Regions from separate parts of the Homo sapiens genome. Here region 2 is linked to region 1. Evidence: fine-mapped expression QTL. Tissue or cell type: subcutaneous fat. Region 1 holds a variant in brackets; the other region holds the start of a gene. All regions are shown on one strand. Distances are between the middles of the regions.

The links. PIP is the estimated chance that this variant, and not a neighbour inherited with it, causes the effect.
Region 2: CACNA2D1 starts here. The variant in region 1 is fine-mapped to the expression of CACNA2D1 in subcutaneous fat (TwinsUK, PIP 0.95).

What each region holds. Positions count from the first base shown.
Region 1 is chr7:82,164,462-82,172,572 of GRCh38, forward strand. It overlaps CACNA2D1 (calcium voltage-gated channel auxiliary subunit alpha2delta 1), which reads right to left. Exons shown (of 39, transcript NM_000722.4): 4 at 6,089-6,148. Among named protein-coding and RNA genes, the nearest start is that of CACNA2D1-AS1, 160 kb to the left of the region's middle. The variant C/T (reference allele first, on the strand shown) is at 3,420.
Region 2 is chr7:82,439,743-82,447,853 of GRCh38, forward strand. CACNA2D1 (calcium voltage-gated channel auxiliary subunit alpha2delta 1) reads right to left here and starts at 4,035. Exons shown (of 39, transcript NM_000722.4): 1 at 3,623-4,035. The coding sequence starts at 3,717. RefSeq lists an enhancer at 2,477-3,040.

The DNA.
Region 1 (8,111 bases):
GAAGAAATTGGAGAAAGAAGAAATTTCTAGGCAGAGATTATCAAAAGGTCTGAAAGTGAAGAAAAGAATACTGTTCTAGGGAAATGTCCAGTCATTTACTCTGCTTTGAGCTTAGAATTTCAGGACAGGAGTAATAGCTGCTGGAGAGATTATGCAATACAAAATTTAGGAAAGGCTAGATGGGGCCAGGTCATAAAGGGCTTAGTATACCCTAAATATATGCTATTAATAAATGGAGAGTCACTGAAGATTTTTGAACAAGGATATGAAATGGATGGAAATACGTATATGGAGTAAATCTTCTTAGATTATGCATTAAATGAAAATTGCAGTAATTTGTAATGCTTATGTATTTTTTTCTTAATTTTTTTATTTTGCAGTTCAGAAATACAGTACACTCCCATTTTAATGCAAATAAGCAGTATACAACAATTTTAATAAAATGTAGCTCAAGTTACGGAGAGGCTAATGAAATTGGAGTTCAAAAACCCTCTTTTGACAGCTGCAATTCGGTACCAGCTGGTGGCAGTAATCTACTCCAGACTAAACATCAATGAGGATGATTCAGCTCTGCATGGCTGAAATTTTTAGGACATTGGCAGCAATCCCAGGAATCTCCCAATAATTTAGCACTATTTTCATCATCTCAATCCCAGGATATTGAAGCAGCGGATTGGTCCTGAAAATATAGAGAACCACCTTCTACCTCCCCATTTCCTAAGCCAAGGGTGTTTGTCCTCTTTTAACTTTTCCCTCCTTTCCTGAGAGGAGAGGGAAGGAAGAGAAAGAAGGAAATTTACCCAGCCTCATTTATATCTACATGTACTTTATCACAGGACATATCATCATGATGTCTGACTGCAGGGGCTTCCACTGTACTATCACGTACTATTGTCATTTTGGCTTTAATAGAAATGGAAAGTGAGGTCAGTAAAATCATTAGAAAATATTAAAAATTGTTAACTGTGAAACCAGTGTTTTTGACTAGGTAATTAATGATTAAATATTTTGCTTCTTTTCAATATAAAAAACAAAAGAGATAGGTTATCACCCAGCATAACTAACAATTTAAAGCCCATGGTTAATATTTTTTATGCTGGTGTTGTAATACTCTTACCATGGCATTTATACGTATGCATGAACAACAACAGTAAGGCACACAAATACGCCTGACTCCTTTACATTACATTGGTTTTCCAGAATTTTGGAGTAAATGAGCTTTGCATTATGGCTTTTAATCTATCTTTATGATGAAGATAAAGTCTCAAGACTCTTAAAAAGCCGTAACAAAAAATTGTTTCCCTACATAGCAGAAATGTTGCAAAAACATTAAAATATGCAAGCTCTTGATTTCAAGAGTGTTTCAACCAAAGGTGGAAACTAAGAAAGACTAAATAAAGCCAGAGCCTAAAATCATTTTGGTGATCTATTAAAATTCACTTATTTATTCATTAAGACAATGCTACGCTCTCACTTTTTATCCCTAAAAGTCAGTTCTTTCAATATCCAAGACCTCATACCAAGTGACTGTCTGTCTTCGATTCTAAGTAAAACAAATACAGTGTGTTTTCCCATTCCACATATTCAAAAATGTTTCTGCTACAATCAATAAAAACGATGCAATTTCATGAAATGAATAAGGATAGATGAAATGATTAAATACATAATGCCGGTGCCTATTAGTTTAACTCGCATAAACACAAAATTTAAAATATCAACATTTCAAAATATGATTTGGCAAAGTAATTTTAATATTATAAAATTAAAGCTATAACTGGAGAACTAAATTAGCCTGACGGACACTCAATAACGTACAACTTCACTAGAAACATTTTCACCTTCTAATTTACTTTGTGAAGCTGAAGCTAAAAGGGACTCTTCAAATGTTTTATTTACCGGCCAATTTCTAGACGTCTGTACTCTGCCTGCACAGTAACAAGCTGGTGCTAATAAGCCATACATAAAGATCCTACTTATTAAAATACAAATTAGACACCCCTTATGTTTATACATGTGTAAGTACAATTAATATTGCAAGCTTCCTTGGAAACAAAATTGCTTTAGTTAACCAACCATTGCAATGCAATCAAATGAGATTTGAAATGCAATTGGAAAAGATCTGTTTGGTAGAAATAGCAATTATTTCATGCAGAACAATTAGCTTTCCAAGCTCTTTTTTGCTTCTCCCACCTGCCCTTAATAGAATAATTTGTCCATCATAAGTGACATGAAATGTCACCTTTAACACCCATAAATTGTATGGAGACCTAGCAGGCAGCTGGTAGACATAGCTTATTTACAAATATTAGTTTGAACTTGTAAATGCATGACCACATAAATCTTAATCCATTTAGGGTGTACGCCCTTTGTTCCCTCAATTGTGTATTCAGTTGGGAATTGAATGGAGCTGAGAGAGAGTGTGAATTGCATAAGTCCTTTGTTGTTGCCAGCATATTAGTGCTTTGCCTTTTGTTCTTGTTGTTCATGAGATTTCTCTACATTACACAGTAGGGAAGGTTAATCAACATTTTGCCTAAGTAATATTAATGAAACTTGCCTACTTACACTTGAGGGAAGAATCAGAATATTACATTGCTCTTTGAAATGTTAATGTACCTTTTAGGAAATTATGTCTGCCTTCTAAATCATCTTAGTGTTAAATTATTAAAGGATGGCATTAAAGAAATATTGCACAGATGCACATTGTTAAATACCTTAAAAGATAAAAGAATTATAAAGTTTAAAAGAAGGACCTTTTGAAAGATGATAAAATTTATCTTCAAATTAACCATTTTTAAATGTTTGGTTAAAATATTGAGAAAATTTACAATTGTTTTGTGTGCTTTCACAAAACAAGAGATTTAATGTTAATGATTTATAAGTTTCAACCACGAATTTGAACTGTATTCTGCTCTGGTCTTGAAGGATTTATTTAACCTTGCTGTATCTGTGCACTAAAGCACCACCTAGTTTATTAGGAACAAAAAAAAAGCTGAGAGGAATGTATTATTTTTGTACTTTTTACTTATTTGAGTCTTAAGATTAGATAGTCTTCATTGAGGTTCTATTCTCCAAGCACAAAAACGACCACTATCTAAACCTTCTATCACTCTATGGCATTTCAAAGGGAAGGGCTATCATAAAGACTATGTATGGCTGCCAAGGTTAGATATGGGAAATAGCAATTCTCAATGTGCAAACTGTGACAGACCTGTGTCCTGTCAACATCATTCACGGTCCTTCAGGAAGGATGCTCAGGAAATGAGTTGACAGGACTCTAAGTGGTCTAACTTGTTTTCCCTTTAACAGTCTCTTTTGATGTCAATCAGTATGTCAACAGGCCCTAAATAAATTGTGAGGTAACCAAGGGGGAAATTAGGAACAGAATTTCTTCAAGAATTCTCCCACATGGTGACCAC[C/T]ATTTGCTAAGAATTCCTAATACTTACTGGGCAAATAATTCATTTTCTATTTCACCATAGAAGATTTAGTAATGGCTTTTGTATTATTGTGGGACTGATTTGTCCTCTTGCACAATGTTTTTTTAGCAGTACTGCTACTTGGATAGAGGCACCAAAAAAGTAGAAAATAAGGGTTACATTTCAAGATAATTTTTTTCACTTTTTGACATCTCTAAGAATACAGCATACAATTGCTGATGCATCATAATTTAAGTGGCTTTTTTGGTGGGGGCTTGGGGGAGATGAGGTCTCTCTCTGTTGCCCAGGCTGGAGTAGTACAGTGTCATGATCTTGGCTCACTGCACCCTCCACCTCCCAGGTTCAAGTGATTCTCCTGCCTCAGCCTACCAAGTAGCTGGGATTACAGGCATGCACCACCACGCACAGCTAATTTTTGTATTTTTAGTGGAGATAGGGTTTCTCCATGTTGACAAGGCTGGTTTTGAACTTCTGGCCTAAAGTAATCCACCCACCTTGGCCTCCCAAAGTGCTGGGATTACAGGTGTAAGCCACCATGCCCGGCCAAGTGGCTTTTTCTTAGAAATAACTAAAATAAATAGAATGACTAAGTGCCTTACAATTGATGATTTACATTCAATAAAATATGGTAATAGCAAACTTGAATTTAGAGTTTTTGTATTGTGTTTGTGTTGTGGTTACCCATTACCTCAATATAGAAAACAAAATAATTGCCAAATGTTAGTGTTAATGAGCCCAATATTAAAGAGTTCACAATGTCTAGGAAATGAAACCTTATGTCTAGAAATTAATAAATAATAGTTAAATGAAACAACAATGATATAGGCATTACTACAACCCTACTTGCCAAGTTATTTTTTTCCACATTATTGCTCTTTAGAAAAGTGAAAACAACATACAACTAATAAATGACTACTTAAAATACTACCAAATGAATTTAAGGCAAAGAAAAAGGGTGCTTTGAACAGGGAATGTATAATCTATATATTTCAGAGGCTGAGTTTGTGTGTCTGTTTTGAGTTCTCCGAATTACTGAAGATTCAAACTAAAACAGCACCAAGGGTATTATATCTATGCTAGGCAGAATACATGATCTAGCCATACATCTATTATGACTTTACACTGCTTTTACCATGCACGCTTTATGTTGTGGGACATAAGGGAAGAGTAATTTATATTTAATGTTGTTAATCAAACATATATTTAGCTAGATTTGTTTTGCTGCTTTTTCCCTATTTGCAAAAACAAAAAAAATCGTTTTTATCTAAAAGCAACTAAGTATATTGTAAGCCTCTTCATTCACTAGATGAGCTTACAGTTTGCTCGATGCTCTAGGAGCTTATGTTTTTAGCTTAATCATTGATTTTTTCCTTAATATATCATGGATAGCAAATTGATCTTTATTAACCTGTGTATGATAAAGGTTGTAGACAAAGCCAATACCTACATAATATTAATACCAATCAAGTTAAGTGATATGATCAGTTCAGTAGAGAATCAAACAAACTGGCAGTTGTCAAATAGAGTCTCTCATTAGTAGACTGTTTAAAATATATAAATAAGTGATAAACAGTAAAAATAAATAATATCACAAGTATCAAGAATGGAAGACTATTATATACATGAATTAAATATCATTTAGTGCATTTTCCTTTGATATTCAACATAATCATAGAAACACAAAGAAGTGCTAATTCTTAAACCTCAGTTTAGTGTCTACTGAAGCACAACTACATACCTTCAAATTTGAGACTTTTGCTTTGCAAAGAGTACAATTAAGCTGTCGCTCACATTCTAAACCTATTTTAAATGTGGGAAGGTAGAGGGCAGTTGTTTACATCCCCAAAATGAGTTGTCTGGAAGTTTTCTGTGATCAGAAATTATAAAGATTTTCTTTCACTACAACTGTAATCACTCAAGTATGTAACAGAAGTACTTTCTGATTATTAAGGAATTTTTTTTTTTTTACTGTGCCCCTTGGCTATAAGAGGATAGATAAATGATAGATATGCAGACCTTACCACAAGGAGAATTTCTGCTATTTCTATAAACTAGTAACTCTTAGTTCATAAAACAAGTTTATTAAGAAAAAAAAAACATGCAACCGCTAATGTCAGCTGACATTTCTCAAAGTAGGCCAGAGTAGAAGAGAGATTACTTCTAGCTAAAGTGAAGCAAATTAAATTTTAAGAAGTTGAATATATTCATTCTCACTTTCATCATATTGCCCACCATCAAGGTGATTATAATATGTATACTGCTTCTTACAAACTCAAAGTAGTTAAAAGCAACTTTTTCCAACTTGTATATTCATAATATCGACAAAAATTATTCAGATATTAAAATTTAATGCTATTTTTAATGTATTTTATAAATAATGTACCTTTAATTATGGGAGAACATTTCAAGGGTTTTAAAGGGTTTTTTGGTTTTTGTTTTTTTTTGGTAATATGGAACATAAAGTACATTTTGGCTAACTTAATTGGCCCTGATTACCCAAAAGCAATTTATTTAAAAAGCAACAAGTATGATTATTTTTAATCCCACAACATCATAAGATTCCATCATTAAAATATATTTTAATATGCATGTAATTATCCATACACAATATGTCAAGCTATTTAAATCAAGTAGTTAAAAGGGGTTCTTACTGCAAAATCTTCTCTCCACTGGTGAGCTGCTTGAACTTTCTCCGCTTCCAATGCCAGGCGCTGAAAAACAAACAATAAATCTTAGAATTCAAATGAACACGTAATATGGAATTGTTATATAAAATGCTTGCGCTTTCTAATCAATTTTGAGGACATAAAAAGCAGAAGATGATCCTTATTTATGATTCATAAATTCTAAATCATTTAGTAATCTAACCTACTAAAGTTGATGTTTGTATATTTACTCTTCAGCAATATAAATAATATACTATTCTTGAATACCATTAAGTTTGTTACCTCTGCCATCATCAGCTATAGTGTCCTCTATGAGTGCTTTCTTTCAATGACTAATACTTCAGTTTTTAGAAAAACACTTAAGTATACTAATTTTCATAGAATCTTATTTTTAGTAAATACCTTTGGAGCATACATTTCTCTTAAAAAATGACATTGAGAGATTAATATGCACTAAACAATATACTAGGCACCTTCTTAAATGCATATTGAGTTTTTACCAAAAGCCACAAAAGCTGAAATAACTTCCCCTTTGATGAAGTACATCTTTAGTAGTTCTTTCAGCGATAATCTTTGATAGAGGATTTGTGCATCTTAAAATTGCTTTATTTCACCTTCAATCGTGTATGCTAAAGTAGTTAAGAATTATAAGCCAATTTATTTTCCTATAGCACTTTCGAAATGCTATTCCATTAAGTTCAGTGGGAGATGACATTGCTAGTGTCAGCCTGCCAATCACTTTTTATAAACTTTTTTTTCCCCTATTCCAATAGCTTTTAGACTTTTCTCTTTGTATTTTTCAACTTCACTATGATGTTCTCCATGTGATAGGCTTTCATAAGACAGTGACATTTAATGGTTAGGAACACAGAGTTGGGGACCCGACTGCCTAGATTTGAATATCAGCCCTTGCAAACTACTAGCTGTGCAACCTTGGGAAAAGTTAAGACTCTTCTCCCATTCTCTCATGTGAGTAATGTGAAAGCCTGCCTCATGGCTTATTGGAAGGACTAAATGAGTTACAAAGTGCTTAGAACAGTGCCTGGCACAAACTAAACAATATATATGTCAACTATCAACTTCAAAGAGTAATGGTTCTGTTTTCTCCCTGGATCCCCTAGAGAAAATAGTGCAGTGTTGAGTTTATTTGTGGTTTGCCTTATGCAGCTAGAAGATAGTGATAAAACTGAGCAAACAGAAAAGTAAATATAATAAATATACTAAACTCACTTATTAAGGTATAGAAATTATCAGGTTAGGTTTAAAAAATTACAAATCTCAGAGTCATTTATTGATTCATGCTGTTTGTGATCTATGAACTATTCCTTAGCGTAAGTTCTTCCTGTGGAGGTCCAGTCTACACTGGATAAACATCCTTCTAGACCAGTTTTTATATTAATGTATTGGCTTCTATCCCTGTGATTATAATCTATTCATTTTTCTAAGCTGTTGCATAGGTTTTATCAGTGACTCTATAATATTGCCTAGTGGGAGATCTCAATTTAAGAGTCCCAAAGCTAAATTTAAGTGAAAATCTATCATAGTGTGCCAAAAGGACAATGGTTTTGTTTTTCACTACTAGGTAGAAATGGAGTATATAAGAAGCTAGGAAATGTTAGAAATTGTACCACATAGAGTAACCAAAAGGCGGCTCCCTCTCCCTACAAAAACAAAAAACTAAGCAGCAAAGCCAAAAGACAAGCATATACATTTCAGGAACACTGCATCATAATACTTTTAGAAACTCAACTTCACATGAAAAATGAAGCAAAACATGAATAAAATGGCAAAAGGAATGGAAATGGAAGCAACTCTTCTATAGAAACACTTCAGTATGGGAAGATAAGGAAAGAGAAGATAGAATGAGAAAATAAGCATGAAGGCTTTTTCTTTTTTTCTTTGTTTTGATATAGGGTCTCACTCTGTCTCCCAGCCTGGAGTACAGTGGTGCAATCATAGCTCCCTGCAGCCTTGACCTCCTGGGCTCAAGTGATCCTCCCACTTCAGC
Region 2 (8,111 bases), 280 kb after region 1:
ATTTTAAAACATACATCTGTGGAATAGTAAATGTTATATGGTTAAGCCGATGAGAACAAAATTAAAGACTTGAGAAAAGTTTATTAATGTTCACTGTTTCAGGTTTTATTTTACATTTAATATTTTATCTCATAATTGATCATATGGCACATTTCCTTGTGTATGTAAAATGTAAACAGAAACTGCTGACTTCAAGTGAGAATAATTATGTCACTTATAATGCATGGAACAGATATCCATTACAATATCCTGACATACAAAATTTCTCCTTTATAGCCTTAAATACAAATTTCTCTAATAACAGGAAAAAAAAATATCCTAAGTAATTAAAGCCAAAAGTACTATACTTCTATGAGAATTTATGCTTATTTCCTGTGGATATCCACAATTCTTAGTTTTATATTTATACCATTGTACACTTTATATTAAAATCCCTGTATACCAATAGGCTCTCAGCCAATTATTGTAGACTGACTGGCATTTTGATGTGACTGAGATAAAAGTTTGATATTAACAGTTATAACTATATATTTTTTAATTGCATTTGTAAATAGATTCTAAAATTAAGGACAAATTTAAATTACCATTATAATACTGGCTATCACACATGTAATTCTAAATATTAAAATAGAAGTCTTTTAACATGTGACAAGAAATTATTTCTAGAAAAACGGACAACTACCCTTTTTGAAAGCTACATTTTAAAAATACCAATACGACATGTGCATACTATAGCATAAAAATGATATATTTTCCATTTATATATCAACCAATACACATTATGTGGCTGCTACCATATCATGTATTTATGTTTCACACCTTAGGGAGACAAACATTTCCAAAAGAAACACCTAACCCAGAGAAATAATCATATCAAAATTTCCTTGTCTGAAAAACATCTATTTTAGTGTTAACTCTTAGAACAGGTTAACTACTACTTTAATCCAAAAGAAAATTTATATTAGAATGTATGTTAAACAGGAGAGCAAAAAATGAAAGAAGATACTTAACTGACACATCATTTGTTTTACCATAATAGAATTTAAGCCCTTCACACAAATGTAAACACTCTATATTTTTAAAAAAAAACTTTGAACTACTAATTCTAATTGAAGTCCAACTCCAATTAGTGCATAATTAATTTTATAGTGTGTGATGGCATGCTCTTCCTCTTCAGCTGATAAAAACTTCTTACATTACTTTTTCTGTGAAAAATGAAACTGGCAAAAAAAAAAACCCAAAAATATTTACTAATGATTCCGAGAGAAATTTACATACAGAAGCATAATAATTTGCCTTTATTGACACTACAGTCTTTGCACTCAGTTTTTATAAATTTGAAATTTTCCCCCAAAGATTTGAGATTTGTCCTGATTAAACAGTGCATATGAATTCTTTTCTCGAAAGAAAAGCAAATGGCACATCTTTATGAAAAATATTGCATTTTTTAATTTCATAAAGTTTATTCAGAAATCTAACATGAAGTACAAATGTCAACCATCAGTTCTTTCCTCAGAAGACAGTGTTACTAACTTTTCAAATGAAAAACTGAAGATGCAGAAGGCTTCCAAAAATATTGTTAAGATTACCTACAGGAGATTGACTTCGCTCCACAAAACCTTTTATTAAGTATTTCATTCATTAAATAATCAATGTCTTATATAATTTGAAAATATCTTGAATTTTCATCGTTAAAAAAAATTTCAGATCCTTCCAAAGAAAAGAAATTGTGATGTCCTACTTCCCATTTTAACCCACTATATATACTCTTTCTTGTGTCTAGTAAATTTCTGACCATGAAAATTGATTTACTTATAATTTTAGGAAAGCATTATTGCAGATGTTCTTCTTAACAATAAGGATTTTTACATTAATATTTTACCACAGTATGTTGAGGAATAAAAGGTTGTATTTTGTTGTAGTTTTCCCCAATGGTATGATGATGTATCCCCTCCCATGATAAAAATATTGATAAATTGTCAGTTAAAAACAACACTGTAAAAATGAGTAATCGGAACACATTTAGGAAGTGATTGTTTTTTAAAGAGCCACTTATTTATTTGACACAGAATGCAAGCGACTCATTTGAGTTCTCACTTTACAGGCCAAGCAACAAACAGACTTAAAAAATTAAATGGAAGTGTGATGCCTTAATAAGAGTAAATAATTCTGAAGCATCCTTAGGGTGATTCTTACTCTTTTTATGTTTAAAAATATCTGACTGGAACATCCTGCCAATTAAACGAAGATCTCCAGATGGCATTTACCCTTTTGCTTCATAACAAAAAGGATCTGCAATCAGTTTTATGGAAGATTATCTAAAGAGGAACATTACTGTAACTCAATGACAACAAAAATTAGACACTCCCCTTCTCCGGGATAGAATGTGCATCCTCCAGATTCTTGCACTGACACCTAAGGTAATAAATACTTAAAACTGAATCTTAAATAATAGCCGCAGGATTTCAACCGCTAAAGATTCACTGTTACTTTCCACCAAAAACTCCTGTATTCAGCACTCAGCCAACAAAGGACAGCAAGTAATTCCCAGCAGCATAAATACCGGGAAAGCTACCTTGGGCTTTGTTTTTGTTATGTAAAATGCATTAAAGTGACTCATCCACTTAAGATTACCTACCTTTAGAAGCTTTAAAGAAGCTCCAAGAACCAAAATAAATGCTTTCCCAGAATGCCGGATAGGCTATTCGGTGCATTAAAAAATATGTATATATTTATATGTGCCATTGAGTTTGATTCTATTTTGCTAAGAAAGGAGAGAATTATTATTTTTCATTCCCTTCCTGTGGTGTGACTATAGCTACCTATAAGCCCTCTATTTCCAGAACAGCAGCGAGGTTTTTAAAAGTTATTTTAGAAATGGTAAAAATAAAAGAAAATTTGTAGGAGACTGGAAATAGTCCCTCCTTCAAAGAATAGGCTCTATTCATTTGAAGAACAGGGACCGCGTGTCTGCCGACACTTAGATGTTTCAAATAATGGGTTGGGGAGGTTGGATCGCGTGGTCCCAGTACCTGCGAGCCCCCTGCGTGGACAGCACGCTCGGCCGCGGGGAGCCAGCACGCGTCTAATCGGAAGGCTGTCAAGTGCATCCAGTAACGTGGGATAAAACGAGTTTGGGCACTACAGCAATTAAAGAGCATCTCCGAGGCCAAGTGCGGGGGAAGTCCACGCTACCTCGGCAAGCCTGAAATTACCTGTTTGTAAATTACCCAACCAAAACATAACTTTTTATTGAACTGGGTTGAATCAGAGCGGGTGAGCTGGCTGGAAACTTTTTTCCCCAGTACGGCTGCACTCTGAAGTCTAGAGAATCCCGTTAGAGACGGGCTGAGACGCCGCGAGTCGTCGGCGGGCGCTTCCCGGGACAGTCGGCCCCCAGTGCCCGGCCCCGTGGAGGCGCCCGAGACGCCGGTTCGGGACGCATTCCAGCGGCGAGCGGCGCGCACCGCCTGCCCGGCGTCTCCGCATCCGAGCCTGGCTCCCCGGCCGCTCGCTCCCCACCCCCACGGGCGGAAAAGCCCCGCGACTCGGGAACCGACCCCCACCCCCAACTCCCGCGGCGCCCCTCGGCCGGCGCTCCCTGCCCGGCCCGCCGACTTACGTGACGGCCGAAGGGAACGGCTCCTCCGACGAGGGGCCGATGAGCAAAGATTGGAAAAGTGTCAGAGTCAAGGCCAGCAGGCAGCCAGCAGCCATCTTCGCGATCGAAGATCAATGCCCCCTCCCTGCCCAAGCGGGGGAAGGAGCGGCGCTGGAAACCGCGGGCGGAGGAAGAGCAGCACACGCCGCCGGGACCGCGGGCGTCTGGAGGGCTGGCTGCGCCCGGGGCCCGAGGCGCGGAGCCGCGCGGGGGACGGCAAGGGCGGGAGCGGACGCCGAGGAAGGGGCGGTGGCGGGCGGACCCACTAGCGTGCGTCGGCTGCTCCGCGCCGCGGCCGCCTTGCCTCCGCCGCCATCAAGGGCGACTTTGGAAACAGACCTCGGCGAGCCCGCCGGCGCTCGCGCGCTCTCGCTCTCCCTCTCGGTTTCCTCCCTGATTTATTCCCCCGATTGCCGAGGCGAAGGCGGAGGCGGGGGCGGGGGCGGAGGAGGGGTGACGGCGCTGGAGGGTGGGGGTGGCTGCAGGAATCGGGGAATGGCAGGCAGAGAGACTTGTGGAAGCGAGAGGCTCCGTCTGGCTTCTTAGGCAAGTCAGAGGGAGGCGGCTGGGGGTGGGCAGCGGGAGGGCTGGGCGTCAGAGCAGTCGGGCGGAGACGGGCCGGGAGCAGCCCTCCATACAAGGCAGCCAGGAACTCCCAAAGTCGGCGCCGGCTCGCTCCCGCCGCCCGGCGTGCGCAGGCGGAGCGGACCAGCCCCGCGGGGCTCCCGGGGGACGGCCAGCCGCCCAGCGGGCATCCACAGGCTGCAGAGGCTCCAACCCAGGACTTGGCTCGCGTCTTCGGGGGTTATTTTTGCACATGCAGGCAGCGTTCCCCCCCAGCCCTACTCCCAGGCGCAGAATCCAGTGCCTGCCTGGGAATCGTGAAGTGATTTGACAACAAATGTAGGAGGGGTTTGTATTGCATTTTAAAGCACCACTGTTGACTCTCTACCAGGTGGCACTATATGCCCGCGTGTGCCATAGGTTAGAGCCTCTGCCGGGGCTGGGTGCCCTTTGTGCCAGCGGTCCCACGCCCAGGTACTGCTCGGCTCACCTGGCGAGGACAGAGCCTCAGGGACCGGGCTGTGGACGGACAGAGAAGTACTGACGCTGTAAAATCTTCCCAGCCCTGTGGTTCCATTGGACAGAGGGGTGGAGGGACGAATTCTGCATCTAGGGAGGACAGTAGTAAGAGAAGCGCTTTGCAGCATCCCAGTTGGGACTACCTCCAAAAGGGTCCTAACGCCCTGCTCTGGCCACTGGCCTGCCCTGCCTGACAAGGTTACCGCAGGGTGAGCTCACTTTTGTCAATGCGAAGGCATGAAAAGGGTAAGCAGCAGGAACAGGTGGCACTCTGAGAAATGCGCCTGAAATGTAGAGGAGGAATTAAGGGAGGGGGAGAGAGCTAGGGAGTAGCAATGCCGGACTGGTTTTATCTCCAGACTCAGAGGAAGCAGTGGCGGGCTTTCTCCTTGAAAAGACAGGGTCTGCGACTAGGCCTCTCCCGCCCAACACAGGCCTCCTACAAGAGGGCCCTGGTGGGCCAAAGATAGAAATATATTCTTGCACACCTTAAATTCTTAAGCTCCCTCTAGTAGTGTATGAGAATACTTTTGACATGACGTGCAGAGAATACAATTTGTGATGACTATCCTGCATATGCAAAAATTCTGTAAGTATCGGGGTGGCTGTCAGATTTTTAATTAGCCCGTTCTTATTTTTAGGAGATGCTTCTGAAAGAAAAAGACCCTTATTAATTCGAAATGAATTTTCCAGCTCTCTGAAGGCAATCTCCCAAAACAAAGACTAATAATAATACTACTACTATTAATTACTGGCCAAATTTTAAGAGCGTGTGTGATTTTATGATGCTTAGCCTGGTGAATTTATTTTTCCTTCCCACTTATTTCTCCTTTTTTTAATGCCTTATTTGTTTTCTTTATGTTCTTCGCATCTCTGTCTTGCTCTTTGTTTCTTTCTACTCTGAGTGGCCTCACAAAAGGCACCCCACCGTGACTTAACTTAGTTTGTTTTATGCTAGGCATGGATACTGTGGCAGCAGGAGCTGCGCAAATGAGGGATGAAGTGGGATGTAATGGGATTGAGAACTACAGCTCAGGAGGGATATTTTATATAACTGAAGATAGCATTCCACTCCAAAATTAGATAAGTAAATAGTCAAATCCATCATTTCTTCCATTTTTAATAATTCAAAAGCAGACTTTCTTCCCCAGCATGAGGACTAAGAAGAGCAGAATTAGAGATGCCCATTATTGTCTATGTGATATGTTGGTATCAATAGCCTCACTACCTAAAAATACCATTGTTATATATTCTGTCAATTATTTCAACATCAACTCCAGACTTCCCACTATGGTACACTGTTTCCAATTTTATATCTTTAGGAGAAAGGGCTTAAAGAATAAAAGAATGTAATAAGCTTGTAGAGAAGGTAAGTCAGCCTTTATTATTAACTTTGTTGGCCTTTGAGCCAAATCTCAATTTCTTTGGATCACTCTGTTGAAGCACTGAGTTCTCCAATATGTGAAGCTGTTGAGGAAAGATATTGCTTCTACAATTCTTACTGAAAGGGTTGGTTATCATCTGTGAGCCTAAATCATTGTTTAATACTCTGTTGCGAGGTTTGCTATTAATTGCTTTTTACCAATCTAAACCTTCTTATTGAGGATATTCAAAATGTGGTTTTTTTTTAAATGTATGACAGCTAAAAGAAGACCATTTCCATAACATAGCATTAGGTTTCTGTTGGATTAACTATACCCATAACAATGCATTTTTTCAGCTCAGTTCTGTTATTTTGGAAAATTCCCTTAAAATCAGATTATATCCCATTAATCTTAATAAAATTTTGCTTAATCACGATAAATTTGCTGTTCAACATGTTGACAAATCATAAGGATTGTTGTTAAGCTGTTATAGTAAATGATGTAAATGTGCAGTAAATACAGTTAATATATTACAGGTTATAAATGAGCAAGAAGTCGCAAATCAGTATCTACTATTCATTTAAGAAGAAATATTTTAATTAGTAAGTTAGTGAAGTATTGCAGGAGATTTTTGCATTTAATCATTTCTAGAACAAAGTTTAAAGAGATTTAATTCATGCAAATCACTGACCTTTACCTACAACAAACTTGCGATTGGCACCTTTTGGCTAAATCTCAGTTTTTAATTCATATATTTAATTTGTTCATATACATTTCATTTTTTAGTAACTAAAAGTGAATAAAGAACAATAAAAACTTGATTGCCATGAAATGTTTATTCTTCCTTTTTTTAGGTGATACTGTGAATGTTGGCAGCATAAAATTATGTTTTTGTTGTAGTTTTTATATGAGTATATGTATGTACAAACATTTTTCTGTGATTTTTTTCAGTAAATCAAATCTAATTTCTTCAACATTTTGCCTGAAAAAATGAGACAGAGTAACCTAATTGAAATTATTTAATCTTTCTCTCTTTTTGTTCTCATGTACAAACAGGCAAACCCAAACACTGAAAAGGAAAATAATTATCCTTAGCCAAAAAAATTTAAAGGAAATAATTAACTTTCATATTACTTTCCACATCTTAAGAAAACTAAGGTGAAAACCTTGACAAAGGGCCTTATTTGCTTGTATGCATATAGGTGTATATGACTCATCTCTGAGATAGACATACTGTTAAGAGTCATAATCAGAAAAACTTGTGATTTGAGATGGTACTATGCTTCCATGCACACAAAGATGTGTGCCAGAGAAAGTGAAAAGTAAAGACAAATGGAAAGAAAGCTTCAACAATCTTACTTCTTTGGGGAATACTTTCAAGAGACAGGAATAAGAAAGCAAGCAATTCAGAAGTATCAATGCTCAGGAGAATGGTTAAAAGAGTGTGTAGTGATTTTTAAGTCAAGAGTTTATATTTGGCATTTTTAAAGTGAAGTGGCACATTGAAGCCTGCATAAAAAATAAAAAGCATAGAAAAGGAACTATCCTAAACTAATAAACAAGGTAAAATATTTTCTACAAACAAGACAACTATTTAGAAAAAAATTTGCCTTGACCCAAGTAATACAGCTATTGAAATGATAGGGCATTGAATTTCTGATGAAAGAAATACCTTTTCTAAAGAGATGCATAGTAACATTAAACAAGTATTTATTGGAAGTTTATTATTTGTCCATCAGAGTCCCCATATTGGCAAACTTATGCTAGTTTAAATATTTAGAAAAAAGTAGCTGTTATATTTTAAAATACCATCATGTCTTCAAGCAATAACTTCAATATTATTTTATTTTGAATCTCTAATCATAGAATTTTTCTTTCAATTTCTTTTTCTTGTTTTATTTTACTCTTTCTCTCCCGTTTCCTCCATTAAACAAACACATTCAGAAAAAATCAGGGCCTACAACATGACTTCCTATTTAAACAAAACAAAACTATTCATCTCT